Regions from separate parts of the Homo sapiens genome. Here region 1 is linked to region 2. The links come from fine-mapping of genetic effects on gene expression. A gene starts in region 2. The other region holds a variant in brackets. All regions are shown on one strand. Distances are from middle to middle. Region 1 overlaps THADA (THADA armadillo repeat containing). Region 2 holds the start of THADA (THADA armadillo repeat containing).

Region 1 (16,613 bases), 180 kb before region 2:
TAAATGATTGGATGAGGTCCAACTGTATTTGCAACTGTGACTGAAGCACTGGAGCTGTCAGGAAGTAATATTTACTTTTGTTGTGGTAAAACACACATAACCTAAAATTTACCATTTTAACCATTTTTAAGTGTACAGTTCAGTGGCATCAAGTACATTTACCAAGAAGCTTTATTTTAGATTCAACTGGACTCTGGCCTTGATGCGTGGATATCTAGTCATTCATTGGTTGATACTCACGTCTTCACAGAGATACATGTCATTCTATTTCCAGGTAACCTCTTGGCTAGGTATTCGAAGTCAGAGTTCATCCAACATACTATGGTTTGTATGCTTGAGGTGAGGAATGAACCACCAAAATGAAGCATTTGTCTATTTCCTTCCAGATGAAAGATAGAAACTTTGATCTTCTCTTCCTTGCCATTAAACCTTTCAGAAAATAAGGAACCCACTATTCCTTGACCTTTGGGATTTTTACAAACTTCAGACTTCAGTTCAGAACACAGACTAGAAACTGTCCAAGAAAAACATGCCCCAAATGAACAGGATATAAACAAAACTGTAACTAGGTAATTAATGGTAGGGACTTGACTCCCCTCACTGCTTCTCTGATAACAATCTGGCACTTTATCAGCAGGGTCTTTTATCTGGAAGGATTCACTGTGTTCTGCTGCTTGGAACTATTCTGGGAGGGCACAAAGACAAGCTTTCATCTTAGAAAGGAAATGGAACTACATCTAGAAGGGGTAAGAAAGAGTTAAAGCTGTAAAAAGAACTCCAAGTCTTTCCCTGCCAGAAAGGAGAGGTGAATGGAAAACACGATGCCATGCTTCACTGAAAACATGAGAGCAAATTCTAATGGGAAAGAAATCACTGCAGTCTTCCAAAGGTGGCAACTTGCTTTCTCCCTTTGTTTCGAGTTCTACATTTTCTCCCCAACGTATTCTATTTATCTTCCTGTCAAAACCAAAGAAACGTAAACTAATTCATACTATGGCATAAATGACTACTAATAACTTTTAAGTAATTTATGTTTCATTGAGATGTCCATTTTAGAAGGGATCAAAACCATATACTAAAAGAATGAAAATCTACAAGGTTTAGCTCATAATGGAGGAGGCATCTGAGAAAATTAAGTGGGTAGAGGGCACTGCTTATGACCTGTCAAATCATTTAATATAGGTTTCAATTACCCTAGGGGTAAAGCTGGTCTGGGTCAGTGACTACAGTGGAGTCACATCTGGCCCTTCCAGTGGCATCATTCCTAGGGAAAAAGGGACTGTTAATGGGAGTATGTATTCATTAGTAGTAGTAGAACGTGCTCCCTTTATTCCCTCTCCAAGCATGGGCACTCCACTCAGATCTCATAACAATGTCGTGGACTGGTTATGGAAGAACTCAGGAAAAAACAGGGATTTAAATTCCTCATCCTACTTAGAACTCAGGAATATTTATCCAAGGTTGGGCCAGGGTGGGTGGCCAATTACAAAATCTAGAGCCTGGGGCTTCTGTGCCAGATCATGGATTGCCCAGCGACACTAGTTCTCTTCTGTCAGGCTGTGGAGCCCCCGAGGTTCATATCTAGGGCCCTCGTGACGCTTCACGGTGGGTCAGGCAAGGAGGAGGACACAAGGAAGCTGCTCTGCTGGCTAGCTTTCAACGGGGAATTCTATCAGGACATGGCATTCTAAAGCTGCTACTTTAGAGACATGTTCAACCACGCAGCAGAATGCAAATCTCTCTCTAGTCAAGCTTTTCTTAAGTCCAGTTTTCATTCTGGCTACAAATTAAATTCTGATGTCTTAAATCACACAGAAAAAAGGGTGGGGGGATAATAAATGATTGAATTATAATAATTATATGACCCTGAAGCTTAACTAGAAAAAATAATTCTATTTCTTAAGTTTCTCTTCAGTAGAATTATGCAGGTTATAATTAGTATTAAGTCAATTTTACTTTTCATTTTATCCAAACCAGAAAGAAGCTGAGCAAAAGGGATTCTCCTGGGAAAAAAATGAATAAACATTCAGGCAAGAAACAAACCAATGCTACCCACACATCACCCAAAAAGACAGATTATTGTCTGAAAATATTGTCTGTCCACTGCTTTGTAAATTCTTTTCTTGTCTGTGGTGACACATCTGTCAGTAACAATTCAACTTTTCCTGGGCTACCTGGATATATTTTTCCACAGTTTCTGCTAAAACAGATGCTTCTTTCCTGTATGATTTAATAACCAAAAGGGAGCAGGCTTATTTACACAGTAGCCTGTAGATTTCATACAAATATATATTTTGTTAATGCTCCGGACACTGTAGAAACTGAACAGAAAAATCTCATTAATGTTTCTTGGTTTTGTGATTATTCAGACTGAGGCCTACTACAGCCTACTGTAGGACTGAGAGTTTTCAACTAAAGTAGACAAAAATGTGGCATCTCTTGGGGGCTGGTGGTCAGGGCACAAATGTCCCAGATCAGGAATTTTCCCTAATGCAAAAACCCCAGGGGACACATCTCATCCTCCGTGTACCCTCCACACAGGTTTTGGCTGGTAACCTTTGGATAATTATGAAAAGAGGGCAGTAGGACTATGTACATAAAAGATATAAAATTGGCAAACCAAGGGCGGTGTGAACCCACTTCAGAGGCCTTGGAGTACAGATGATCAACTAACAACCAGATGCTATTGTTACTTATCCATTAAAGCAGTTTCCTGAAGTTATTATATGCAATCTTAAGTAACAAAACCTTCCTTTCATACTATTCAGTAATGTAAACGCTTCACAGATTTAGATTTCCTTTTTTTCCAAATCAGTTTACAATTACTGCATAAGAAAACATTGGCAATTTAAAAAAGTTTCAACACGAATTGATATCCTCATGGCTGTTTTCTTTTTTTTTTTTTTTTTTTTTTGAGACGGAGTGGCTGTTTTCTTTATAAGAGAGTAAAAAGAGAAACAATCAAGTTACTATATGTGAAAGTACACTCTAAACTTAAATTCTTATGTAAACATTTGCTATTATTGTTTTTTTTTTCTAGCAACCCTAAAGATTTTCAAAATTACGTAAAGCAGTGGAAACTTAAGATGACATACTAAAGACAGATAGAAAACATATTTTCTAAGAGTTTAAAAATTATGCATAAATAGCAGCCCACAAATAATCTCATTAAGATTTTAGGCTTCTTAGCCTCAAGCCACATTCTCTCTTTACTAAGACACTTATAACTGTGCAATGACCCATGATTTCCTATTATAATAAGGAAAATTTCCTTTGTAAGAAATTCTCAGTGTTTCTCAAGAATCTCAAAACTTCAGTTGAGCCAGTTTTATTTAGCAACCTGTCACAACCACTTAAGCTTTATTGCAAGTTTTTCTTCCTTTTCTCCTGATTTCAGATTAGAAAATGAGACTACTGCCAACGAAATGCCCAAGGGGGGAAATATCTCAAGAAAGCAAAGTAAGTCCAAATGTTTGTTAGGTAAAGCTGCAGGTTAATTTTGGCATGCTGAGAACTACCCTGTCATACTTCACAGACACAGCATCATAAACAGATGAGCAAAAGCAAGTATTACAGTGTTAAGAGCTAGAATAGCTAAAGCAGTCGCTAACAGCATGGGTTCTAGAGTCAGATTGTTTGGGTTCAAATTCACGCCTTATCACTACCAGTATGAGCTAGGTAGGACACATTTAGAAAGTTCCTACTGCCCAACATTCCCCCCCTCTGTGGAATGGGATAGTAACGACAATGACTTGATAGTGCTGTCATCATGATTAAATGAGTTAATATGTGTAAAGTCCTAAAATATTGCCTGGCTTATAGTAAACATTTGCTAATTATTATCATTTATCACTAATCAGGATGGAAAAAATAGGAGCAAAGAAGAGATAAGAAGCATCGTCAAAAAGGATACCTCATTATGCCAAAAACTGTATCTGTCTGATTCACCACTCTGTTTCTAGTGCCTGAAACATAATTGTTTTCAATAAATATCTGTTGAGTGAATGAATAAATGAATTTGCCCTGACTCCTTAGGGAGTCACTTTTTGAATGTGGGCATATTATGTCTACTCTCTCTGGGCCTTGGCTTTTCACCTCCAAAGAAAGGAACAAGCACCTGCTACTTGCTACCTCAAACTGATGATAATCAACGTAAGAAGCAAAGCAAATCATTTCAAGCTTACTGGAGCGCTTTCAGAAGTCAGTGATTTTTTAAACCAATGCTCCTTTGTTACTGGGTATGCATGAACACAGTCACTGACAGCGGGAGGAACCTCTGTGCCACCCTGAGTCCTGATTCTGATATGTTTCCCTTAAAGAAGTTCCCTGACTGCAGCTAGCCAGGTAGAGCAAGATGTCAGACATTGTACTAGGCCCTAAAAGAAGGCTGTTCAAACTTCAGTGTGCAGAGGTAATTGAAATTCTCAACTTTTGGATGTGTGTGAGACATGCAGAAGAAGCTGTCCAATAGAAAGTTGAACTTGTGATTCTATATGAGTTCTAGATCTAGGACCAGGTAAGTGTAGGTGAGTGATAACCCCAGAGAGAGCATGCAAAGTGAAAAAGAAAAGGTTTGAGGGCAGGACAAACAGGTATACCAATGTTTGAGAGGCAGCGGGAGGAAGGGGGCCCTCCAAGGAGAGATAGAAATAACGGCCAGAGAAGCCACAGAAGAAAGAACTCAAGAAGAAAGGAGTCTGCAATAGCATCAAACACCAGAGAAAAAGCAGAAATGAGAAGGAATGAAAAGCACCCAGTGGCTTTTTTAATAAGGAGGTCACTCCTATTTGTTGGTGCAGTTTAGTGAGGCAGTGGAAGAAGCGGCCAGGCTGCAGTGGGTTAAGAAGGGGAAAAATGGAGACTAAACACAGACCACCTTTTCCTAGAGCCTGGCTATAAAACAAAGGAGAGGACTGTGGGTGGAGTGGGTTTCTCCATGGACAGAACCCACACCTGATGGCCTCCACATCTTCTCTTGCAAATGAGAGGTGATGAGAGTAGGGGTGTTGGGTTGGGCAAGGGCACAAAGTAGGCCCTCAGTAAATACACTTAATGGAAGGATGAACTGGTGATGAAGAGTGATCACAATATAAAGAGACAGAGAAGAATAAATGGTGAAGAAGAGAATGTCTATAACTGGTTGGAAGGGAGGCAAGATGAGCAGTCAAGAGTCACAATGTTCAAAGTGAGTGAGGAAGGAAAAAGTAAAAGGACGTGAGGGTGAAGGTATCCTGAGCAGCTGATGTAACATGTGTAGCTTGTTTTTACTAGAAGATTAGAAATAGACGGTGGGGGCCAAGGCCCAGAGGGAAAGGGAAAACCCATTCCAGTCAGAGAAAGCTAACCGAAACACACTATGTCATTATTTTTCCTTGTCCTCATTTGAAGCCTTCTATAATTTATCTTTACCTTCTTATTCTATTTCCCAATTCTTATTTTCTTCTGGAAGAAAAAAACACATTTTTGATCTAAAATGTTCTCTACTGTGTAGGATGACTGCCTATCAGTCAGCATTTGGGGCTTGGTAATGTGAAATCCTTCAATTCAGCATTAAAAATGCCTGCAGAGCACCTTTGCTACAATTTTTGAGAAACAATTTAAGAACAAGGAAATAAAAGTTCTGTATGGAAAAACACTGTTAAGATACTTTAAAATGTTAAGTATTACTAAATTTAAATTTTTTTTCCCACTACAATTCATTACTTCCACAAGACTTAAATGCAACACTCAGGACAAATACTGTTCTTTATTAAAGTTACCAAAGGTGCACCATCAATGGTTTCTCCTGTTAAATAGCAAACCATTTATTTTGTGAATTTCCTGGGTCGCCCTTGGTTCAAGTGGAAGCAAAGCTCTTTATGATGCCTTCCAAGTTATGAATCATAAAACTCTCCATCACAATCTTCCCCTTGTTGGATCCCCCTGACTTTTCACTCCTCTCACATGACTTGTTAATCACCATGGGTGATTTCTAAAAGTCCCTGAGATGGCAGACTGAACTCCCACATTTCTTCCTGCCTTGCTATTTGGGAAAGCCTCCCGGACTTCTCCAACCCACTGATGCTCTTCCCCTTCTTTGTAGGCCTCAGTCCTTAGTGTATATGTCATATAATTAAGTGGTTAATATACACGGTATCAGGTTCACAAGCATGTATTTTACCTTATTAGCTAGACGGTAAGTTCTTTAAGCATAAAGACATTTTTCTTTACTTTGCATCTTACCCAAGACCTAACACTAGCTAGGTACACAATGAATGTTTAACAAATACTTGGTTACTCAATTAACTGATTAGATTCTAACTTCTAGTATGAATGGCAGCAATAGGCCATAGATTATCATCATTGTCAGAAATTTCACCTAAGAATGGGACTGTGTGCAGATCAAATCACTTGTTCTAACATGACCTAAACTGGCCTGTTGGGATAACAGATAACACTGAAGAAAAGCTGGTCCCTACAAGTTCTGTTTTTCTAGTTTGCTTTGTCAATGCATTCCATAAGAGGTGAACTCCTCATTCCTTCTGCTCAAAAACATATTTAGAAAATGGTCTTAAAGAGATCTGGCACCAGAAATGAAGTTGGCCAGGCCCCTATCTAGGAACTAACAGATAAAAATTGGTGACAGATAACAAGGTATCTTTTTATGCCAGAACTATTTGCAAAAAAAGACACATAATGCAAAACATAATTTCATACTACATGCTGAACCTCAGCTACCCTGGGTAGAATTCAGAAATTCAGAGGGCCATGAGTACAGCCCTCCAAATAAAGTGCTAGGCACAGTAAAAAGGAGGCAGAGTAAGTAGCTGCCCAAACAATGTGATTTCCCCAGCAATAGGAAACAACCTTCCAATCTCTGCTTCTAGATCCTCCCTATATAAGGCCTAAAACACCACCATTAGAGTTTTACTGCTTTATTTCAAAATGTATGTATCTGTAATATACAAATACCCCATGGAAGATAACACTGGGGGCATTTACATGTTTTGCAAGTTTGGCCTATAAGCAAAGAAGAAAACTGAGCAGCACTGAACACCTGTGCCTCAACAATCTGGTCCCAAGCCTGACCTGGTATCAGACAGTCACATAGTGAAACCAAGGGGCCAGGGTTTCCACAGAATTATGGGATAGCAGAACCCTTTTTTCACCCAACAACTGTTAGCAGATTAGGATGGCTGGGCAGCGGGGGAAGGGTGGGGGCATACTCCTTTCCTATAATTCCCTTCTCTGAACCTCATGGAATTTAGTAGTAACCACAGACCAGGTAGAGTGCTGGCCAGGGCAGGAAGTTCTATGTCAACAGTACTGGCAAAGCCCTATTTCTCAGGTGTTTCTACTTGTAATGAGCAAGGCTTGGAGACCCCTGTACTCTCTCTCCAGGCAACTCTGTTCAAGATACTTTGGGAAATTGGGACAATAAAGAGTTATCTACTATAACCACTCTTTAGAAAAGCATCTCTGACTTCTCAAAGACTCAGATGTTCTTTTGCTTGTCAGAAAATGTGGCTTAAGCCAACATCTGGAATGGAGAAAAATACAGGAACCACAAAAAAAGGTAATTAAATTAATAAAGAATGCTTTTCAGACATAACATCTCATAGGCCAAAAATATGTTTTCAGAACTATCCAGAACACAGTTACAGAAGTTACTTAAATGCTAAATTTTAGTAGATTAATTCCTGGAGGGTGCCATTTAAGAGCAAACCACTGTGACTTTTTGGGCCATGCCAAGAATGGCATCCCAACTTCTTTTCTTTGAGAGATCGAAGGACCCATAAACAAAAATGTACAAATATTGTCACAGGATTAGAGGCAGGTTGATCATTTCATTCACTGAACATTCAGAATCCACAGCTGAGTTGTTCACCTATTCTGAAATAAGGCATGCCAAACAGATACCTTGATGATATCCAGTCCAACCTCAGGTGCGCTGCAGATATATGCTCAACATGTGATCAGTTTTCCTTGAAAACTTAACACTTTTGCTGATGGGCAAACTCAGTATTATGGAAATATGTTCTTTTCCTTGATAGAGAATACTAATTTTCACAAAATTCTTCTTTAAATTAAAAGCTGAAATCTATCTTCCATTTTCCCATTGGGAGCAAAAAAGAGAAATTATGCGCCTTCTACCATATGGCAGTCTCTCAAGTATATAAAGACCATTATCATGTTGCCACTAAGTCTTCTCCAGTCTAACTGTTTCCAGATGTTTGGTTTCCTCCTCATCTTGGTCACCTCCCCTCGACAGATACTAGTTCTTCAGTGACCTTCCTAAAATGGGGAGCCCAGAACAGAATAATAAGGAGAATAATGTGGGTTTAGGCTAACCAACAGAGTTCAGGGGGACTACAGCCTCCACTATCTGGAAGCAGCAACAGTGTCATGCTGCTTTCTCATGGTTCACCAGGATATCTCATTCACCAAGATATTTTTTCCCCCACAAAAACTGCTATGAAGCCAGATAGCCCTCATTTTGTATGTATATAATTTTGACTTTTCTTTAAAAAATCAGAATGATATATATCTCTATTAAATGTTATCTTGATAGTCTCATCCCATCAATCCAGTCTTTCAAGGCTTTTTTGGGGGACAGGGTCTCGCTCTGTCACCTAGGCTGCAGTGCAGTGGCCCAATCACAGCTCACTTGAGCTGCCTTGACCTCCTGGGCTCAAGCAATCCTCCCACCGCAGCCTCCCAAGTAGCTGGGACTACAGGCGCAAATCACCAAGTCTGGCTAATTTTTAAAATTTTTTGTAGAGACAGGTTCTCCTTATGTTGCCCAGGCTGGTCCAGGCTATTTCGAATCTTACTTTTAAATGATGAACTGCATCAGACATACAAAATGATGACAACAACGAAAAGAATCTAGAGAATAGGATGACATTCAAGCATTTGCCCAATGCCCAATTTAAGAACACATCACAAATAAAATTGTAGCTTCTAGTACATGGCTCCTCAATTTCACCCCTTTCCTCCCCATTCAGAGGTAATGGTCTTATGCCTGAATTTGTGTTTGTCAGTCCTATGCTTGAAGGTTATTTTGAATCTTAATTTGCTCACAAATTTGATAAGCATGCAATCTAGCTTGCCTTCATTTTTTTTATGGCTACTTTTAGCCATTAACAGCATAATCATAAAGCATCATGCTATAAAGTTGCAAGAGATTCTTTCCCTATCTCCTCAAAAGAATTTTCACTTGGACTTTCCAGCATTTGAAGCTATGTCACCAGCATCAGTCTTTTGACTTCATATACCTACCAAATAAGTAGCTTTACTTTCTTTCTTTCTTTTTTTT[T/G]TTTTTTGAGACGGAGTCTTGCTCTGTCACTCAGGCTGGAGTGCAGTGGCACAATCTCTGCTCACTGCAAGCTCTGCCTCCTGGGTTCACACCATTCTCCTGCCTTAGCCTCTCGAGTAGCTGGGACTACAGGCGCCTGCCACTATGCCCGGCTAATTTTTTGTATTTTTGGTAGAGACGAGGTTTCACCGTGTTAGCCAGGATGGTCTCGATCTCCTGACTTGGTGATCCGCCCGCCTCGGCCTCTGAGACCTGATTCGTCTAAGCTCTCCTGGGCCTTTGTTCAGGATTCTATGGTCCTAGGTTTGAGGCATATGTGGTTACCTAGAGCTCTTTGACTGGAACTTGAAACTTGCTTGTGAAAGGGAACTCAGAGATGTATGCCCAGGGACTTTTTGGCCTCTGAAAAGACTTTCTAGTCTCTAGAAAGCCCAGAGAAGCAGGCCCTGGTGAGCTGCATTCAGAGAGCCAGTCAAGGTTCTTTTTAAAGCATGAATTATTCTGCTTTGTGGTACCTGAACTGAAGAATGAATTAATGGTCTTAAATTGAAAGCATCACATTCACATGGTAAAGGGCTTTGTATCTGGATGCAGCACAACATCAGAACATAAAATACACTGGATTTTTTAAAAGTTGTATACAAGATGTTGGGATTGACATTATAAGTTCTGTCCCAAGAGGATGCAACAATCATAATGGCATATATGTTTAGGTATACTCTTAAACATGGGATAAAGGAGTAAAACTACATATAATACTTATAAATACCTTACAGAGAGGAAGGAAATAGCAGGTAAGTACACATAAATCAAAGGGAAACAAAAAGCTCTTGTTGGCGCTTTTAATCTTCTTCTCATTGTGCAATTCACTTTTAGCAGTCAGAGCAACCTTTGCACTACTCCCACAAACTGAAATTTTTTTCTTTGGCCAAACTCATAGTATCCATGAGCCTGATGAAAACCCTTCCAAGTACATAAATTACCCTTAACAACGGTACAAAAATAAAACACTGCTGACCCACTGTGCATACACCCATCCATCTTTTTAGCTATTACCCCAAGTCAAAACAGCCCACTCTTTACCACAATCAGAACCACAAGCACTGCCTGGAATGACAGGTTTTATGATCAGCCTTCCACTTTCTTCATGAATAATATTCTCAGAGGTCATCTAAATCAAATGCATACAGTTTTATCACATTCACTGCTTTTTAAAAATCTGTTTATAGTTCACCTCGCCAGTGAACATTTTGGGGTAGCATGGGTTTTCCCTGTGGTAGGCTGATGAAACCCCAAACTAACTAAATCTAGGGCCTTCCACTTTACCACAGAAGGTGGCCAAGAAAGAAGAGCCAGGCTTCTACTGTATCTGGCCACAAACCAGTCCTATAACCCCAGGCGATTGTCACCATGTGCCACACATGGTTAACCAATCCAATCAGTCACTTTTCCTACAGGAAAAGCAAAATAAGGAACAGATCCCACCATTGGTAGAGACATTACGTCTATATCCAGAAGACAGCCTGTACTCAGATACAGCAGCTGTGGATATAGGCTCCTCATCTCTCTCAGTTGCATACATTTCAGACCCTATAGGTCCATTCCGTGTAGCTAAGTTACTGGCTACTCAAAAGGCAACCAAAAAACAAGGTTATTTTGGTATAACAGAAAGAGTACATCTAACACCCTTGACAAGCCCTGCACTCTTGGGTTCAAATTCTAGCTCTGTAACTGCCTTGCTCTCTGAACCTCAATTTCCTCAACGGGCAAATGAGGGTGATAACACCTCTTCTCAGAGTCACTGTAAGTAAAATGACCAGTTCAATACTTGGCAGAAAGACGGGGCTCAACAAAGGTTGGTCTACTTCCTACTGACTTCTCTGCTCAGAACACTTTCTTTCTTGTTTTCTGCATTCCTGGGTCAAAATCTACTTCTTAATAAATTCCTTAAACTGCCTAACCAATTTTAATAAGCTACTACTGTCTAGCTTGTTAAAATTGTATGTGTGTGTGTGTGTGTGTGTGTGTGTGTGTGTGTGTGTGTGATGGTATTAAATTTAATATCCCAAGTTTAATTTTGCTACTCAAAATGTGATCTACAGACCAGCAGCAGTGGCATTATCTGGAAGACCATTTGGAAGTCGGACTCTCAGGCCTCACCTCAGATTTACTGAAATCAGAATTTATATGATAGCCAAGTGATATGTTTACATCTTAAAGTTTTAGAAACACTGTTCTATAACACACATGGACAGTCAATAAGTCAGAGCCTAGGCTCTGTACTTAAGGAATCAAGGGTGGTGCTTCTGCTTACAGGACATTTTGCTTACAGTGACTCTCAGAAGATGTGTTATCACCCTCATTTGCAAGTTGAGGAAATTGAGGTTCAGAGAGCAAGCAAGGCAGTTACAGAGCTACAATTTGAACCCAAGAGTGCAGGGCTTGTCAAGAGTGATAGATGTGCTCTTTCTGTTACACCAAAATAACCTTGTATTTTGGTTGGTGGCACTTCTGCTGTTGGTGATGTTCTATGAATCTACTTCATAAAGCACCTTACTTACTGGAAGAAAGCAACTACAACCGCAGCATTTTCTTTCACTGGAAGAACAGACTGATTGCAAACTTCTTACTTTGTATTTTTAGAGGTTAACAAATGATGCCCTAAGTACACTGGCTTCAAAGCAATATTTAAATTTTCTATATTAATGCAATCTTTGTTTTATATAATGGATACTTTGAATATAATGAGTAGTATCAGCATTCTGATTATATGTAAACTAAGCAACATTTTGGAAAGGTACTTTCAGGTACCACTGAAAGGTACTTTCAATGTAGTAATTTATTATTTCTAGGATGCAATGAACAACAGACTGAGTAGTAAAAAGCTTCCACAAATTCAATGTTCTTAAGACAGAGCACAGGTTCTAAAGCAAATCTCTGTTTCTAATGTAAACTGCAATTCTGTGCACATGCCTTTCCTCCTTGCATCAACTTTCTGAAAACATTTCTTAGTTCTTTCCACTTATTCATGAAAGAACAATTTTTAAGGCCCCTGAAAGTAAAATTTACCACCCAAATTCCTAAAATGAATCACCAAATGCCAGATGAAGGAGACTGGTAACTTTGTATATCAGGAAACAAAAACCAGTCTGCCTGAGTCATCTCTGTGATCAAAGATAACACAGCCACAGCCAAGGCTTGGCGCAAACAAATAGCTCTGCAAGCGCATGCCAGAACCTCATGTTTAATGGTTTTCTCACATTAAAATGCATAAGTCAGCTCTGTGAAACAAGGAAGTGAAACCTAGGACACTACATACATAAGAAATACTCTCTTGAGTTTGGTTTCTTACCCTTCTGCTCCAAATCCACTTCAATTTTTGGTAGAAACACAAAAATGAAGGTACTGTTTTGTCAAGAGCTAAGCAGAAAGGTAATAGCTAACTAATATGATAGGCTTCTGAAAGGTTTCATGAGAAAATTTTAATACTTCTTGGAGGCCTACATATTTAGGCCTTTGATCCAAAATGAACAAAGTAATCAGAAGACGGCAAATGCCTGAAAAGATGTAACACAAGAAGTGGTAATAGGCTCTAAAAGAAGAGAACCCTGTTATATTATTTCATGAATACTCTATATTCATGGCTTTTTTCAGGTACTACAAACGTAAAAGAGAAGACGAGTGGGAATTCATGCCACATGGCATTACCATTTACATGCCACCCATTGCACCGGCTCGCAGACTCTTCCAGAGTGAAGAGGCAGATGTCCTGACATCCTCTCGAACCCGTGGACAGAAGATACATACCAGAACCAAGCCTGCTCCGTGCTAGCCAGGCTCAACACAGGAATAACGCAAACATGGGGCTATGTCTTTCAAAAGGAGTATCTCCTATCAACACCATCCACCTGCCTTGGAGCAGACAGGGCTCAAAGAAAACATTACTTACACAGGTTCTAATGAGATCCTGTACCCACAATATAAGCACCTTACTCTGAAACACTGGGGGCAATGGCAGGAAAACCCAGGCCTCTGCTTTCACAAGACCCCTCCCAAAGTTTGTGTGTGTGTGTGTGTGTGTGTGTGTGTGTGTATACAAGTTATATATATATACACGCACACACACAATAGTTATATACAAAAGTTTTACATATAATATATATAATAGTTATATATATAATAGTTTTTAATATATACAATAGGTTTACATATATAAAAAAATATATAATATGGCCGGGCGCGGTGGCTCATGCCTGTAATCCCAGCACTTTGGGAGAATGAGGTGGGCGGATCACAAGGTCAGGAGATCGAGACCATTCTGGCTAACACAGTGAAACCCCATCTCTACTAAAAATACAAAAAATTATCCAGGCGTGGTGGCGGGTGCCTGTAGCCCCAGCTACTCCGGAGGCTGAGGCAGAAGAATGGCGTGAACCTGGGAGGGGGAGCTTGCAGTGAGCCGAGATCGCGCCACTGCACTCCAACCCAGGCGACAGAGCGAGACTCCGTCTCAAAAAACAAACAAACAAACAAATAATATATATATATAAAATATATATGATATATATAAAATAGTTTCTGAAATAAGAAGAAGATAAAATATTCCCGTAAAACTCCCACGCCAACCTAGACAATTTCTACACAGCATGACACTACCTCATAATGAAGGGAACAAAAGGTCCCATGCTGAGAGCAGAAGAAGTACCATCCATCGGGGAAGCGTAGAGTCTCTCCAACACCAAAAGTAAGAGAAACATGCTTGGATGACGATTTGGTTCTCCCATATCACTGAAACAACAATTATTACACATGAAAGATTTCACATTTAGGTAGTGAAGCACTCCTCCTTCAAACATTTTTCTCATGAAATAATTATGTATATGGCCGGGTGCGGTGACTAATGCCTGTAATCCCAGCACTTTGGGAGGCCGAGGCGGATGGATCACGTGAGGTCAGGAGTTCAAGACCAGCCTGGCCAATACAGTAAAACCTCATCTCTACTAATACAAAAAACTAGCCGATGTGGTGGCGCATGCCTGTAATTCCAGCTACTCGGGAGGCTGAGGTGGGAGAATCACTTGAACCTAGGAGGCGGAGGTTGCAGTGAGCCAAGATCACGCCACTGCACTCCAGCCTGGGTGACACAGTGAGACTCCATTTCAAAAACAAAATTATGTATATGAAGTGAGACTCCACAATCAAGGGGATAGTTTTCCTTTTTTCTTTTTTTTTTCTACGTTCACTTCTTATCTCCCAAATGTGCATCATAAGAAAAAACTACTAGCAAAACAGGGAAATGGGCTTTCGTACAGGATCCTCTTCTCAAAGCTTATCATTTACATAATTAGAGTACGCTATTTTGATTAGAACTGTTCCTACAGTAGAGACGTGCCTGTTCCACAGTATGAAATGTGAAACTTTCAACATCCAAATGTATTTAAGAAAGCATGAATAGTCACTAAAGGCCAGAAAAGCACATTAGCATAAACTACTAATGTGAGCAAATGCATCATAACCAGAAGTAAAATTCATTACTTTTATTTTCTAATTATAAACAATTAGTGTACATTCATACCAAGTGCAAAATTATAGGAAAAATACAAAAGACATGCTTTATGATGTCCATACTAAAAATTCCACTACCAGCTTCAGAATGTGTGTGTGTTTTTTTTTTCTTTTTTTGAGACGGAGTATTTTTCTGTCACCCAAGCTGGAGTGCAGTGGCAAGATCTCAGCTCACTGCAACCTCTGCCTCCTGGGTTCAAGTGATTCTCCTACCTCAGCCTCCCAAGTAGCTGGGATCACAGGTGCGCACCACCAGCCTGGCTAATATTTGTATTTTTAATAGAGACAGGGTTTCGCCATGCTGGCCAAGCTGGTCTTGAACTCCTGACCTCAGGTGATCCACCTGCCTTGGCCTCCCAAAGTGCTGGGATTACAGGTGTGAGCCACCACACCAGCCAGAATGTGATTTTTAAGACAATGGTGAACTATAAGACTGGAAAGCCCTCGTAATGGCTTTGCTCTGTGTTTCCAAGAACACTGGCCATTTCTGCTCAGGTAGACAAGAACCATTTCTGAACACAAGTGATCATATTAGTCAGCTAATCGCTATAGTTTCACAATGGTAAGTTGCAACAAGCCAGTAATAAAAAATGACAGGTATGCATAAAGCAAACTCAATATGTAAACACAGATTTTTTTAAAAATAGGAAGAAAATAATTCATAACAGAAGAAATCACCATGTGATTCCTAGTTTCTGTACCACCGAAAATGGAATTAAGTTTGATAAAATTTAACATAAAATAGCATTTTTAAAATATAAAGACAGGATTTTACATAACTTTTCAGGTACAAATTTACTACAGAGAACCAAGCAATATGATATAATTACAAAAAAGCACTTTAATAAAAAAGCCAATTTTATGCAAGGAAGCAGTCTGACCGTGCACAGTGGCTCAAGCCTGTAATCCCCACACTTTGGGAGGCCCAGGTGGGCAGATTGCTTGAGCTCAGGAGTTTGAGACCAGCCTGGGAAACATGACGAAACCCCATCTCTACAAAAAATACAAAAATGGGCAAGGAGTGGTGGCCACCACTGTACTCCAGCTTGGGTGACAGGGAAAGACCCTGTCTCAAGGAAAAAATTTAAACAAATTTAAAAAAGGGAAGAATTTTATTAAAAACAGCTGCCTAGAGGGAAAATCTCAATTACTAAGGTAATTCACATCCTTGAGGTCATTTTGCCCCACCCAATTCTCTTCTTACCTGTCTACTGTATTGGCTACAGTTTCCAACTGTTTGAGAAGAAAAGGATAGAGTTCTGGGAAACGAGAGAAAAACTCTCTCCCTGTCATTCTGTGAAAGAAGGAGGAAAAAATTTATTATCATTTATTCCCTTTGATCTGACAATAAAGCCTTTTTTTTAAAAAAAGGAAGATAAGTACGGTTGTTTGGATATTTAATTAAATACAGTTAAAAACAGAATCTACAGCATCTTAAGAATTTAACAATCAACACAAATGGTAATTCTGATTTCTGAAGTGCTCTCAATCCATGAACTTTTATCTCAAAATTTAAGATTATGTATGTTTACAAATATTTGATATTAAATTTTATCAGGGAAGAAATATGTAATCTGTGCCAATGCCAAGTTTCCACAACTGATTTGGACTATAAGTAGAGTCAACACCAGATTGACTGAGACTGACTCAGCTTCAGTGATAAGGACAGGTCTAGAACAAGCGTTCCCAACCCTGGCACCAATGACAGTTTGGACCAAATAACTCTTTGTTTCAGGGGACTGTCCTACAC
Region 2 (16,613 bases):
ACAGAGAACAAACCATATGAATGAACTTTTTGTGATCTGTATCAGTTCAGTTTTATCAAACCAAGGAAGGAACTTCAGTTACTTTTGGTCAAATTCAACATTTATAACACCCAACTTCCCTTCCTTTTTTTCTTACCTTGCCAATACTTTCTTCAAGGGATTCTTTAGACTCAAAGAAAGATAAATGCCTGCTAAGATATCCAAACAACTTTGAATAGTGGGATCACACATGCCATTTTTATCTGCTTTCTCCAGCAGAGGCACAATCTATAATACAAAACATTGAAGTAATTTTTATAATATCAAATATAGCAAAGTAACATGGTTACAGATACTCTTTGAAGTCTCAATTGCTGGGTACAGTGGCTCACCCCTGTAATCCCAACACTTTGGGAGGCTGAGGTGGGCAGATCGCTTGAGCCCAGGAGAGTTCGAGACAAGCTCGGGCAACATGGTGAAACCCTGTCTCTACAAAAAAATACAAAAATTAGCCAGGCATGGTGGCACATGCCTGTAGTCCCAGCTACTCAGGGGGCTGAGGCAGGAGGATTGCTTGAGCCCAGGAGGTTGAGGCTGTGGTTGAGCCAAGATCACACCAGTGCACTCCAGCCTGGGTAAGAGAGTGAGACCCTATCTCAAAAAAATAAATAAAACAAAGTGTCAATTACGTGAAATGTTTTCCATACTCCACTGTCAAGGATACTGATTTAAACACCTATTTCACTATTTATTAACTTTTTAAACTCATGTCCCCACCTCCCTCTTTACCCTCCAGACCCACCTCCACAGAGAATCACAGACCTGTTAATGGCTTACAGTAAAGAACAGCTGTAGCACTATTAAAAAACCAGTAATACATTTACTTGCTTTCCAAAAAAAAAAACTATGTGTGCTCAAATGGTAAATCCTAATACTGAAATACTAATAAGTATAATCTTTATATTTTAAATTAACTTTTAAATGTGTCTGCTAAAAAGTTTTGAAGATTCATATATTTTAAAATTTATCTCCACAAAAGAGGTATGCACATTATCTTCTACCTTATCTGTTTACAGTTCAATTATGATAGAAGTCTGAATATGGCTTCTATTGCTGCTTTGAATACAAGGATATTATACAATAAACAGAAAAAAAAAAATACTTATTTGCTAATGATAAACTGATATGCAATAATTAGGGACCAAAAACTGTCAGTGATTTTTTTTAAATCCTTAATAGCATGATACTCTTAAAGATGCATCCATGAATATCAATTCAGACTTACCTGTTTAATATAATGGATTTGTGACACTCCATCCGTGAGTTGCACACAATGTAACAGCAAAGAAGCTAGATTTTTCCCTTCCACATCAGCAAAAGCTATATAACATATACAAAAAAAAATTTTCAATGATTTAACAGTGAGTTAACTTTGCCTTTGTTGTGCATTCTACAAAATTTTTTAATTATAAACCATAGCAATAGGTGGAACATAGTCTGAAGACAGAATTTTAAGAAAATTGTTTTACATCCAAAACATAAGGAAAAATATAAAGAATTTGAATATTATATGCTAGGGGTCCCAGTCATTAAAATACTCTGCTTGCAAACTAGAAAAAAATATAATAAGGGAAACCAGAAGTCACCTACATTTCAAAGTTTCAAGGTCCTGATGGCAAATGGTCAGCGCAGCAACTTGCATTTCTTTCTTCTTCTTTACACCCATTTTAAATAGAATTAATAGTAGTCACTGCAAGAAAGAAGACTTTAAGGCATTAATGTAAGGTTTCTCAACCTCAGCACTATGATTTTTGGCTGGGTTCATTCTTTGTTGAACAGTATCATCCTATGCATTATGTTTCATGCATCCCCATCTCTACCCACTAGATGCCAGTGGCACCCTCCTCCCTCCCAAGTTCTGACAACCAAAATATGTCTCCAAACACTGTGAAGTGTCCCCTGGGGAGCAAAACTGCTCCAGAATGAGAATCACTGTCTAAGAATTTCTGATTTGAAGAAGAAAAATGTTTTAAGCTGAAGCTTATTACTGACTGAAGTTATTTTACCTACTATGACTCAGTCTTTGTATTTTAAAATACAGCAAACTTTCCTTTTAGTGAACATACACACAAAAAAACTGGGATAGTTTTTCCAAAGATAAAATACTTCAAACTAACCTCAGTGACTCATTAGACTAAGAGGAGGTACTACCGTGTCCTGATTTCTGCAAAAATGAAAAAAAATATTTTTTTAATGCTATTCTCTTGAGTTTGCTTTTATCGATACTTAACAAATCAACGGGTTCATAACAGGCTAAACAACCCAACTCAGAGACTACACAACTACACACTAATAGTACCATGCCATCTGGAAAGAAGTTGCTAGGGAAATGTCATAGGGCTCTTCTCTTGATGCAGTTAGCATCTTTAGCAGTATTTATGATGCAAATATTAGAGACTATAATGTAGTACATGTATAAAATAAATCTGGAAGGACATGTTGAATGATGGAATCAGGAATAAAAACAGGTCAATAAACTGGAATAACGAGCAATATGAAATTTACCAAGATGAAACAGAAATAAATACAAAGGGCTGCATTTAGTTTAGGGGAAAAAAACACAGAAAGAGAGGCTGGAGAGGCAAAACGTGGTTTGAAACAGCTCAACAGCCCAAGATGACTGCCAAAAACCACAGAAGTCAGCCATATCAGAGTGCATGATTTTATTCAAACAGGCCAGGTGACATGTAGAGCATTAGGTACAGCGCTGGCGGCCATACTCTAAGGAGCCATAACAAACAATGGAACTATTTCTGAAGGACCTAGAGAGCACCTCCTTCAGAGAACAGCTCAGTTAACCAAAGGTGTTTGGCCTGGAGAAAAAGTCAACAGAACAAGAGCCTTAAAACAGCTGCTAGACTGTTTTGGAGAAAAAGGGAATAGATTTATTTGTCTACTACAGACTTTTTTTTTTTTTTTTTTTTTGAGACGGAGTCTTGCTCCTTCGCCCATGCTGGAGTGCAGTGGCGCGATCTGCGCTCACTGCAAGCTCAGCCTCCTGGGTTCAGGCCATTCTCCTGCCTCAGCCTCCCGAGTAGCTGGGACTACAGGCGCCCGCCACCACGCCCGGCTAATTTTTTCTATTTTTAGTAGAGACGGGGTTTCATCATGTTAGCCAGGATGGTCTCGATCTCCTGACCTCGTGATCCACCCACCTCGGCCCCCCAAAGTGCTGGGATTACAGGCGTGAGCCACCGCGCCCAGCCTTAGACTTCTTGTCTTGCTATTAGATTAGTAAAAGTCAGTACAAGCTACAGGGAAACAGATTCCAGATCAATACAAAGGAAAAGCTCTATGGTCCCACTAAGGACTGGGCTACCTTTTAAACAAAGAAATTTTCCAACACCAGGAATATTCAAAGAGAAGATGACTGAATATTTTCTCTTGGACTCCTGAAACAGCTCCCTAACTGGTCTCCTGACTTCTACACTTACCTCCAAAGAGCCCATTCTGTTTACAATCATCAAAGCAATCTCTTTAAAAAAAACTCTCATCAAATTGAATTACTTACTCTCTTCCTTAAAACTTTCCAAGGGTTTCTAAATACACTTAGAATAAAATTCAAACTTGAGGCCAGGAGTGGGGGCTCGTGCCTGTAATCCCAGCACTTTGGGAGGCCGAGGCGGGTGGATCTCCTGAAGTCAGGAGTTCAAGACCAGCCTGGCCAACATGGTGAAACCCCGTCTGCACTAACTAAAAATACAAAAATTAGCCGGGTGTGGTGGCAGGCGCCTATAACCCCAGCTACTCCGGAGGCTGAGGCAGGAGAATGGCTTGAACCCAGGAGGCAGAGGTTGCAGTGAGCCGAGATCGTGCCACTGCACTCCAGCCTGGGAGACAAGAGCGAAACTCCATCTCAAATAAATAAATAAATAAATAAATAAATAAATACTTGAGATTTTGCCCTTCAAGGCCCTAAATAATCTGACCCTGCCTTCCTCCACTCTTCATCTCAAACCAATCTCCTCTTCACCATCTCAAGAGCTTTGTACTTCCTGATGCTCTTATTCCCACCTAAGAGGCTTTACACTTCTCAGTATCTCTGCCCCTTAATGTTCATTCCACATCTTTGCAAGACTGACTCCTTCTCACCATTCATGTTTCTGCTGCAACATTACCTTCTAAAAGCCTTCCATGACCACTCTATCTAAAATCTCACCAATACAACACACGTAGACACCATTTCCGTTAATTTTCTTCATAGCACTTACTAGTACCAGAAATTACCCTAACTTGTAAATTTGTATATTGTCTGTCTCACCTAGTAGCAAACTGAATGAAGGCAGCAACTTTAATCTATTTTGTTCATGTTTCAAGTCTCAATTTCCAAACCAGTGCCTGGCACATAGTAGGTGTTTAACAAACACTTCACGAATAAACAAATTAATTAACAAACATTTGTCAGAGATGTTCTAGAAGGGATATATGTCTTTAAGGGCAGGAAGGTGGACTATCTGGTACCTAAAATGCATTCTACATCTAAGTGACATTCTACATCTTAAGAACCTATGGTCTGTTTGGGAAGTAAGAAATCCATACAGTAATGGCAGGTGAGCAACCACTTAACCAAAAATGGACGCAGCTAGGAAAGTGTCGACAACAGAATAATTTGTAAAGGGATAGTCAGATCTAGAGGAATAGAGGCACGCTTCCTAAGAAAGTGACCATCGTACAAAGCCAGAAGAGACTGGGAAACCTAACTAGGGAGACTATTCTCTGGTGAAAGGTAAGCAAGTTTGCAGGAGGATTTGCTCTTGCAATTCTGAGGGCTACACAAAAGCAGACTCGGTAATTATGCCTGCTCAAATGATGCCTAAACGTGTGTCCTGAAGAACCAGGGTCCCCAAGGGGGTAAATCCCGTGTCTACCGCAAGGCCAGAAGGTGCCCAGTAAATTACACTCCTCCTAGGTCCCACTTACTGCTTCCCTTTAGAACGCTGCTTCACTCTACACCTTCCTGGCTGACTCCCACAAACATTCTCTGGGCGATTTCTGAACCACGTGGAGTCGAGGAATGACAGTGGGAGAAAGTGGTTAAAGTGCTGTCTCCATGGAGACCTTAGCGACCGGAAATCAGTTTCACAGCCGCCGAATCCTGGCGATACCAAAGGATGGGAATTGGTGTGGCTCGCCAGGCAGCCCTAGCAAAACTGGCCGAGCCGAGCTACCGCGGGTCTGGCAGGCAGGACACCTGGGAGCCAAACCTCGTGCACGTCGGCGTCTGAGAAGAGTCGCAGGCGCCTGGTCCAGTCCCGGAAGCAGGTCTCCTTCTACGGCGTCTCCGAGGCTCGCAGCGCGGTCCACGGTCGACTACCGGGTCAGGGCAAAGGGAGGGAGAGAGGGGTAACCTGGAGGAGTCATCGCGAGAATTGACCAAACGCAGCTCCTCCAATCAGGAGTTCGAGGAGGTCGTGACGTCACCGGGGTGGCCGGTAGCAATCCGGTTTAGTTAACCAGCCACTGTACCGTCAGCGCCGCGCGTTCCTCATGGCGTTAGGGCTGACGGGCCTTGTTGCTGAGGGGCCTTCATTCAACGGTCTCTTGTTGAATGAAAAGACCTCATTCTCTTCACATGCTTGGACGCCTGGGAAGCGCTTTTCTCCCAATCCAGACCTTCCACCTTTCTCCCACTCTGTTGGCCCAGTGCAGAGTCTAGGAGAAAACTACGTCTGGGACTCGGGAACGAGTCCAGGGAGTTTAGAGCCTGCGAGATGGGGCAGGGGTTTGGGCGGCGACTGAACGGAAGCCACGAGAAGGATTCGGACTAAAATGAGTAGTGCTGAACCAACGTGTGCCAAAGCGCATATATTCATTCAATAGATAATGAACTCTACTGTCAGAGCGTCGCCAAGCGCTAGCCTTGAAAGCTATCCCCTACTGAGGATACATGTATTACGCAGCACATACAAATTGTCAGATGGTTCAGTCCTTGAAAAATAAATACAATAACGGGGTGTCACTGGGAGCTGCGACAGTGGGCAAGATCAGGAAAGACCTGATGCTATTATCAGGAGTATTAATTTGGAAAATAGAGACATTTCAGTTCTCTAAACGTTAATGACTTAAGTTTTTAATAATTATTTTCTGAATTTTTTATATCAGCTTGCCTTGGTTTTCTTTATAGCTTTACCACATAATGTATGTATCACTATCTTGTTTCGTTCAATTTTGAAGCTTTTGGAATTGCGTATGTATTCTCCAGCAATTTGCTTCTTTCAGCATTGCTTTTCATATTCACCTACAGGTGGCTGTAGTGCTCTTCGCCCAGGCTGGAGTGCAGTGGCGCGATCTCGGCTCACTGCAAACTCTGCCTCCCGGGTTCAAGTGATTCTCCTGCCTCAGCCTCCTAAGTAACCGGGATTACAGGCGCGCGCCACCACGCTCAGCTAATTTTTGTATTTTTTAGTGGAGACGGGGTTTCACCATGTTGCTCATGCTGGTCTTGAACTCCTGACCTCGTGATTCGCCCGCCTCGGTCTCCAAAAGTGCTGGGATTACAGGCGTGAGCCATGGCGCCCGGACCGTAATTTTCCATTGTTTAATATACTTCATTATGTATCCATCCTGCTGCCTCTTAACATGTGCATTATTTCCAGTTTTTGTTCTAAACATTGCTGCTGTGAACTATGTTGTGCATGTCAGCTGGTGAGTGTGTGCAGACGGTTCTCCACCATAATTTTTTCTGGTATTTTTGACCCTGACATAGTAAGAAATACATTGCAGACTTTGAAACTGTGGACGTAGAAGTACTCACACATAACTGAAGTAAAAATTTCTTGAAATGCTACTTTACAGGAGCTGTGAGATTTTATTTCCTTTTTTTCTAAATTATGGTAAAATACACAGCAAAATTTACCATTTTAACCATTTTTAAGTTTTATGTTTTTTAAAATATGTATATTGTTTCAGACCTACTAATTATATAACTCAGTGGGTCCGAACCCCTTTTTTGTTGGCAGACACTGCAACTCTTCACCCTGCACAGCGAGAGGTGGGCTAGGGAGCAAACATAATAAACATATGTTGAAAGGTGAAGCTACTGTTAAAACTTCAGACAAATTAAACTTAACAGGGTTTAATTGAGCAAGGGGAAAAATGATTCTCAAATCGGGCAGTCTCCAGAATCATAGCAGATTCAGAGAGACTCCAGGGATGCCTCGTGGTCAGAGCACATTTACAGACAAAGAAAGGAAAGTGATGTACAAAAAGCAAGTGAGGTACGGAAGCAGCTGGATGGGTTACAGCTTGGCATTTGCCTTACCTGAACACAGTTTGAACAGTAAGCATTGTATGAATAGTTGAAGTATGGCTGCTGGGATTGGCTGAAACTCAGCTATTGTTACAGAAGCACACTCCTAAATTAGGCTTTCAGTCTTGTCTACCTACTAAGTTAGGTTATGGTTCATCCACAAGGACTCAAATATGGAAGTGCAGAGGCTTTCTCAGGCGGTATTTAGTTCAATTTAACACCGCCATGGAAAAAATAGGGGAATGGAAAGTGAGAGTATAGGGGAGGTACATTGCAACTTTAAATAGGGTAATCAGGGTAGGCCTCACTGAGTAAAGATTTCCAAGAGACATAGACACTTGGTGAAGGGGAAACCTTCCATACAGAGGGAACAGCCAGTACAAAGTTTCCAGGGCAGGGCTTGCCTGCTGGGAGAATAGCAAGGAGGCAAGAGTGGCCGGAGCCAAGCAAGGTAAATACTAAGGAGTGGGACAAGGGGCTTTGGATTATATAAGGCTTTCACATTATTTCATGGACTCTTTCATGAAATGAGGAGTGATTTTGAGCAAAAGAATAATAACATCTAATGTACATTTCAAAATAATCACTGGAGCTACTTTGTTAAGAAGAGACTGTAGGTCGGACGCGGTGGCTCACGCCTGTAATCCCAACGCTTTGGGAGGCTGAGGCGGGTGGATCACCTGAGCTCAGAAGTTCAAGACCACCCTGGGGAACATGGTGAAACCTCGTCTCTACAAAAATGCAAAAAAAAAATTAGCTGGGCATGATGTTGTGTGCCTGTAGTCGCAGCTACTCGGGAGGCTGAGGCACGAGAATTGCTTGAGCCCCAGAGGCAGAGGTTGCAGTGAGCTAGCATTGCGCCACTGCACTCCAGCTTGAGCTGCAGAGTGAGACTCCGTCACAAAACAGAAAAAAAAATAAAAGACTGTAGAGCCTGCAGGAAGCCCAGTGAGGCTGTTGTGGTAAACTAGGCAGGCAGGATGCTGGTGGCACTGACCAGGGTGGTAGCAGTGGAGAGCGGGAAGTGGACAGGTTTTGGATATAATTTGAAAGCAGAGCTAACAGGATTTTTTTCTGAAGGATAGAATATGGGTATGAAGAAATGAAGAGTCAAAGATGAGTCCAAAGTTTCTGGCCTGAGCACCTAGAAGGATGAAGTTGCCAAAGTTTACTTGGAGCAGATTTGAATGGGTTTAAAAGAGACTGGGAAGAGAGGAATTGGCAAGATCAAGCAGAGGCAACTCCTTCTAGTCCTTCTAGTACGCAAGGGGCAGATAAATGGAATGGTAACACCTAGAGGAAGTATACTGCCAAAAGCAATCTACAAATCCAATGCAATCCCCATCGAAATACCACCATTATTCCTCACAGAATTAGAAAAAACAATGCTAAAATTCATATGGAACAAAAAAAGAGCCCGCATAGCCAAAGCAAGACTAAGCAGAAATAACAAATCTGGAGGCATCACACTACCTGATTTCAAACTATGCTATAAGGCCATAGTCACCGAAACAGCATAGTACTGGTATAAAAATAGGCACATAGACCAATGGAACAGAATAGAGAACCCAGAAATAAACCCAAATACTTATGGCCAACTGAGCTTCGACAAAGCAAACAAAAACCTAAAGTTGGGAAAGGACACCCTTTTCAACAAAAGATGCTGAGATAATTGGCTAGTCACACATAGGAGAATGAAACTGAATCCTCATCTCTCACCTTATACAAAAATCAACTCAAGATGGGTTAAGGATTTAAATCTAAGACCTGACACTCTAAAAACTCTAGAAGATAACATTGGAAAAACCCTGACGTTGGCTTAGGCAAGGATTTCATGACCAAGAACTCAAAAGCAAATACAATAAAAACAGAGATAAATAGTTGGGACTTAGTTAAAGTAAAGAGCTTTTGCACGGCAAAGAACAGTCAGCAGAGTAAACAGGTAACCCACAGAGTGGGAGAAAATCTTCACAATCTATAAATCTGACAAAGGACTAATATCCGGAATCTACAATGAACTCAAACAAATCAGTAAGAAAAAAACAAACAATTCCATCAAAAAGGGCTAAGGATATGAATGGGCAATTCTCAAAAGAAGGGCCAGGCACAGTGGCTCACACCTGTAATCTCAGCACTTTGGGAGGCCAAGGCGGGCAGATCACCTGAGGTCAGGAGTTTGAGACCAGCCTGACCAATATGGAGAAACCCTGTCTCTACTAAAAAATACAAAATTAGCCAGGCATGGTGGTGCATGCCTGTAATCCCAGCTACTTGGGAGGCTGAAGCAGGAGAATCACTTGAACCCGGGAGGTGGAGGTTGCGGTGAGCCGAGATCTCACCATTACACTCCAGCCTGGGCAACAAGAGCGAAACTCCATCTAAAAAAAGAAGAAGAAGAAGAAGAAGAAGATACACAAATGGCCAACAAACATATGAAAAATGCTCAACATCACTAATGATCAGGAAAATGCAAATCAAAATCACGATGCAATACCACCTTACTCCTGCAAGAATGGCCATAATCAAAAAAATCAAAAAACAGTAGATGTTGGCATGAATGTGGTGATCAGGGAACACTTCTACACTGCTAGTGGGAATGTAAACTAGTACAGCCACTATGGAAAACAGTGTAGAGATTCCTTAAAGAACTGAAAGTAGAACTACCATTTGATCCAGCAATCCCCCTACTGGGTATCTACCCAGAGGAAATGTTATTATACAAAAAATATACTTGCACATGCATGTTTATAGCAGCACAATTCACAGTTGCAAAATCTTGGAACCAACCCAAATGCCCATCAATCAACGAGTGGGTAAAGAAACTGTGGTATATGTATACAATGGAATACTGCTTGGCCATAAAAAGGAATGAATTAACAGCATTTGCAGTGACCTGGATGAGATTGGAGACTATTATTCTAAGTGAAGTAACTCAGAAATTGAAAATCAAACATCATATGTTCTCACTGATCATTAGGAGCTAAGCTATGAGGACACAAAGGCATAAGAATGATACAATGGACTTTGGAGACTTGGGAAGAGTGGGAGGGGAGCGAGGGATAAAAGACGACAAATATGGTGTAGTGTATACTGCTTGGGTGATGGGTGCACCAAAATCTTACAAACTAACACTAAAGAACTTACTCATGCAAGCAAATACCACCTGTGCCCCAATAACTTATGGGAAAAAAATAAAAAATAAAGTGAATCAATAAATCAATAAATAAAATTCTCAAAAACAACAACAACAACAACAACAACAAAAAACCCCTACGTTCTCGTAGAGAATCATCTGTTACTTTCCAAACGTACAAACCCCAATTATTTCCAGGCAACAAAGGTTTTGTTTTAAAGGTTGAAATAGTGACATCTTTGAAGAAGATATCCTCTTTTTTGCTAGGCATCTGGTGGCACTACCAACTTGAGACCACTTTAAATACACTGCTTGAGGTTTTTCAGGACACAATAGCATGAATTTGAACTACAAACTTTTATAAAGTAACTATGTATTTTATTTGTGAACATGTGTTCCAAGGAAATTTTTAAAGGATCCTTAGTATATAAAAGTGTAAATGAAAACACTTGACAAGGCCTGGTGCGGTGGCTCATGCCTGTAATCCCAACATTTTGGGAGGCCAAGGCAGGTGGGTCACTTGAGGTCAGGAGATTGAGGCCAGTCTGGCCAATATGGTGAAACCCCATCTCTACTAAAAATACAAAAATTAGCCGGGCATGGTGGCGGGCGCCTGTCATCCCAACTATTCAGGATGCTGAGGCAGGAGAATCGCTTGAACCCCGGCAGGTGGAGGTTGCAGTGAGCCAGATCACACCACTGCACTCCAGCCTGGGTGACAAAGGGAGATTCCATCTTGAAAAAGAAAATACTTGACATAGTAACAGTGGACTAGATAAAAATCATAAAAAGTAATCCTTGTGTCGACATTTTCTTTAATGTAGTTTAGCATTGCAAATATGTACCTGTAAAAATAATATTTTCCACTCAATTAGAAAAGGGAATTTTAAAAATAATTATTTAGAGTTGGGCGCAGTGACTTCTGACTGTAATCCCAGCTACTTGGGAGGCTGAGGCAAGAGGATTGTTTGAGCCCAGGAGTTCGAGGCTGCAGCATGCTATGATCACAACTGTGAACAGCCACTGCACTCCAGTCTGGGCAACAGAGAGAGACCGTCTCTACAAAAAAATTATTATTATTTAATGACATGATTTTATATGTAATTATTAAGATTCTTTTACATTTGAATGGACATTTGAATAAGTAAAATTTGACCTTTTAAGGCCACAAAAGAAAGGCTTTAATTGCCTACATAATTACTACCTGTTCATGAAGGTCAATAACAGCCAAAACTTCAGAAGCAGTGTGACTGACCAGTCAAAAGTAAGGTTCTCTTGCAAGTAATCTTTTCTGTACAGAAAAACATGATAGTGTCTCCCAGTTTCATAGTCATTTTTACATCTCCCAAAATTATCACGTATGGTACTCTGCGAACAATGCATGGTGCCATGTATAATTCAGCAATCCCCCATATTAAATAGTTTGAGGTTTTTGTTTGTTTATTTGTTTGTTTTAGATGGAGTTTCGCTCTTGTTGCCCAGGCTGGAGTGCAGTGGCACGATCTCGGCTCACCGCAACCTCCACCTCCCGGGTTCAAGCGATTCTCCTGCCTCAGCCTCCCAAGTAGCTGGGATTACTGGCATGCGCCACCATGCCCGGCTAATTTTGTATTTTTAGTAGAGAGGGGGGTTTCTCCATGTTGTTCAGGCTGGTCTCGAACTCCCGACCTCAGGTGATCCACCCACCTCAGCCTCCCAAAATGCTGGGATTACAGGCGTGAGCCACCGCGCCCGGCCTGAATAGTTTTATATCTAAAATGAAGCCCAAAACTGTATACTAGACCTATGAATATAAATATTGTGTTATTTAATATGTTTGGCCCCAAGTCAGTGAAAGAAAGCAAAGTACTGTACTATTACTTATATATCTATTTATCTGTCTTAAAACAATAAACATGTATTATCTCTTAGTTTCTGTGGGTTAGAAATTCAATTTGGCTGAATGTGTCTGGCTAGGAGTCTCTCATGAGGTTTCAGTGAAGATGTTGGCTGGGGCTACAGTCACCTGACAGCTTGGCTGAGGCTGGAGAATCAGCTCCCAAGATGATTGACTGACTTCTTGGTGCTGGTTGCTGACACAAGCCTCCAGCTCCTCTCTACATGGACCTCTTCCCAGCTGCTTGGGCCATCTTACAACATGGCAGCTGGCCTTCCCAAAAATAAGCAAGAGAGTACAAGGTGGAAGATTCAGTGACTTTAATGGCTGAGCCACAAAGCAACACAGCATCATTTTGACAGTATCCTATTGGTTACAAAGGTCAGCTCTATTCAGTGAGGGAGGCTCTACACAAAGGTGTGCATACCAGGAAGCCGGTATCATTGGAGGGCCGATTTAGAGGCTGCCAACCATAGTGTATTAGGCCATCCTTGCATTGCTATAAAGAAATACCAGAGACTGGGTGCAGTGGCTCATGCCAGTAGTCCCAGCACTTTGGGAGGCTGAGGCAGGTGGATCACCTGAGGTCAGGAGTTCAAGACCAGCCTGGACAACATGGTGAAACCCTGTCTCTACTAAAAATACAAAAATTAGCTGGGCATGGTGGCACGCACCTGTAGTCCCAGCTACTCAGGAGGCTGAGGCAGGAGAATCACTTGAACCAGGAGGCAGAGGTTGCAGTGAGCCGACATTGGGCCATTGGACTCCAGACTGGGTGACAAGAGCAAGACTCCATCTTAAAAAAACAAAAAAACAAAAAAAAAAAAACCAAGAAAGAAAAAAAGAAATACCTGAGGATGGGCAATTTAGAAAAAAAAAAAAAAAAAAAAAAGGCTGGGCAATTTAGGAAAAAAAAAATGTTTAATGGGCTCATAGTTCTGTAGGCCATCCAGAAAGCATTGCACCAGCATCTGCTTCTAGGGAGACCTCAGGAAGCTTACAATCATGACGGAAGACAGAGGGAACGGCCACATCACATGGTAAAAGCAGGAGCAAGAGAGAGTGGAGTGGGAGGTAGGTGCCACTTTTACAAAACCAGATCTTACGAGAACTGACTCACTTATCACCGAAGGGATAGGCGAAGCCATTCATGAGGGATATGCCCCCATGATCCAAACACCTCCTACCAGGCCCCACCTCCAACACAGGGGATTACATTTCAACATAAGATTTGGTGGTGACACAGATCCAAACCATTTCATATAGTAATGATAACACCTTTGCAGATTTCCCTTGCTGCCTAAAATGCACTAAGGGATCATAACTAAGGAAAGACTTATTTATGATTTATTTGAATATAATTTCCATAGAGTATCTTAAGGAAACAATAATTTTCATGTCTTCTTACAAAGTTATTTACCTTTAATGACATACATTTTCATGTAAGTCAGCATAGAACATAAACATAAAACTAGGTTGATTTTAAGAAACCTTTTAGATATTCTTCAAACTTTCTCTTCCTAAGCAATCCCTTCCTGAGGGGCTGGGCGCTATGGCTCACACTTGTAATCCCAACACTTTGGGAGGCTGAGGCGGGCAGATTACTTGAGGTCAGGAGTTAGAGACCAGCCTGGCCAACATGGTGAAACCCAATCTCTACTAAAAATACAAAAATTAGCCTGGCGTGGTGGCAGGAGCCTGTAACCCCAGCTACTTGGGAGGCTGAAGCAGGGGAATCACTTGAACCTAGGAGGCAGAGGTTGCAGTGAGCTGAGATCGTGCCACTGCACTCCAACCTGGGCGACAGAACTAGATTCCATCTCAAAAAAAAAAAAAAGAAAACCCCAAAAAACAAAAAACAAAACCACAATTCCTTCCCACGTAAGAATATGTAGTGACTGTTGTCTGTGTGACACCACCCTCTTCCTTCCACACACACCAAGTTCCCACTTGAGTGACCTCAATATTCCCTGAAAGCATTGTCCTTTCATCGACTGTGCTCTCTGCTAGGCTTCATCTCACATTTTACCTCCTCAGTGAAACCTGACAAGAAATTCCTATTCTCCATCATACTTAGATTTCTGTCTCAGTGACAGCATTATCAGTTTGTTAGTTGATAGTAATTATTCTTATGCTTGTCAGTCTTCCTACTGATTTATAAACTTTTCCATGTTGGACACCATCTTTAGATTCCTAGTGCCCAGCACAGTGGCCAGCATGAGTAGCTCTGCAAATTGTTGAGTTAGGATAACCAGGCCAGCAAGTCCTCTGCAGTGGCAGCGTGCAATGGTGCTTACTTTACCACTGTGTGGCAGCAAACTACAGAAGTATTTCCACCGTTTAAAATAAGGAGGAGAGCTGAGATGAGTATTCACAAACTATAGTATAACTTGCCAGCTCAGTTGAAATAATATACTAAATTTATTATGAAATACAACTATCCAATGGAAAATTACTTTGTTCATAACATTGCTCAATACTGTTTTTAAATTTATCCACATTGTTGTTTGTACTTTTTATATCAAATAAACAAATATTTAAACTTTAAAAGAAAATGTAATAATAAGTAAAAATAGTTGTAAAATAATATGATCTAAAAATATTAGAACAGAAAATTATATACACATTGTGTTTTCAACTTTGTAAAATAATGGGTACTATGAACAGGGTTTGGAAGAGAATGGGTTTGGAGAAGCAGTTTGTCAGGCGAGTAAGATTGTGAGTGAGTTTTTTTCTTAAATTTTCTTTAGTGTTCTAACATGGGCTTAATAAACCTTTAAGGCCTGTTTTTATAGGTTGTAGAGTTGCTAATTGGAACATGCCCAAATTACCACAAAGCTGCCATTTTTTACCATTTGGATTATAATACTGTCATCTTAAAGAAAGCCCATGGTTGCGTTGGGCACAGATAGAAAGCCGTATTCTTAAATTGAGTTTAGCCTCCGTACATATTTTAAGTTTGGCCTACTGTTTTCTCCATACTTAGTTGGTTGTAACCTAACTTGATGTTAAACAGACTGTAACCTGATCTCTTAAGTAGCAGAGGCTCAGCCAGTCACAAGCAGCCAGCTGTTCAAACCAGGTTCAAATAAAGCAAATGCCCAGCTGTAACCAATCCAGTTGTTTCTGTGCATCACTTCTACAGGTCACTTTCCTTTTTCTGTCCATAAATGTTATCCAACCATGCCAAAGCCCAGGGGTCACCCTGAACCTATTACGATTCTGGGGGCTGCCCAATTTGAGAACCGTTCATTACTCAAACTCTGTTAAAGTTAATTTGTCTAAAGTTTTTCCTCTAAGTATATAAAAATTTAAAATGCATAGCACCATCTTTGATTAAAATGCTTTTGAAAAGAAAGTTTTTTTCTCATTCTTGTTGCACAAAGCATTCTTGTATCCCCTCATTATTCCCCCATTCAAAAACATCTGTCCATATGGCAATCCCAATTCTTAGCCCTATCCATAGGAGACGGGACTAGTAGCTCACTACTATGGTTTTTGGGGGACATCTGAAGAAGGAATCCCTGGGACAGGAAGAGATGGAAAAGTTTGATGTCCATTTTTGACAGTAGGATTCCACTCTACCAGGGTTCTGCAAAGGGAGAAGACACTGTATAAAACATAGTTCCAATCTTTTGAAAAAGGTAAATATTGTGTTGGGGTTTGTTGTTGTTGTTGAGACAGGGTCTCACTCTGTCACTCAGGCTGGAGAGCAGTGGTTGTGATCACGACTCACTGCAACCTCGACCTCACTGGGCTCAAGTGATCCTCTCACCTCAGCCTCCTGAGTAGCTAGTACTACAGGCAGGTGCCACCATACCCAGATTTTTTTTTTTTAATGTGTAGAGATGGGGTTTCACCATTTTGCCCAGGCTGGTCTTGAACTCCTGAGCTCAGGCGATCTGCCGGCCTCGGCCTCCCAAAGTGCAAGGATTATAGATGTGAGCCACCACACTCGGCATTGAGTTAAGTTTTTAATATCCATATTAACTAATATTATCCTGTATCCACACGTAAGGTTTCTGGAGCAGAGCGGATTACTGTTATTTACTTACAGCCAAAAACAATCCCATGGATCCCCTGTACCCAAATTCTTATCCCTTAATGATACAACGAGAGGTGGCTGAACAAACTCTACATGTAAGTAATATGTATTATAAGTGAGGAACCCCCACTCCCCCAATTTAATCTAGGTGTTGATGTAGAAGGGAGAGGCAGCTGTACTTCTTCCTTCTTCCAAGAGTTTCTCTGGAAACACGATGGGAAGATTCCTGGGTTTTTACTTTAACCCTTTGGAATATGAATAAACTTCTGGG

Evidence for each region. PIP is the estimated chance that this variant, and not a neighbour inherited with it, causes the effect.
Region 1: its variant is fine-mapped to the expression of THADA in blood mononuclear cells (TOPMed, PIP 0.91).

What each region holds. Positions count from the first base shown.
Region 1 is chr2:43,414,146-43,430,758 of GRCh38, forward strand. THADA (THADA armadillo repeat containing) reads right to left here. Exons shown (of 38, transcript NM_022065.5): 27 at 16,068-16,157; 28 at 13,955-14,086. Among named protein-coding and RNA genes, the nearest start is that of THADA, 170 kb to the right of the region's middle. RefSeq lists enhancers at 11,833-11,912, 11,951-13,150, 12,305-12,394, 12,415-12,474. The variant T/G (reference allele first, on the strand shown) is at 9,299.
Region 2 is chr2:43,590,688-43,607,300 of GRCh38, forward strand. THADA (THADA armadillo repeat containing) reads right to left here and starts at 5,351. Exons shown (of 38, transcript NM_022065.5): 1 at 5,244-5,351; 2 at 1,630-1,729; 3 at 1,265-1,359; 4 at 137-267. The coding sequence starts at 1,705.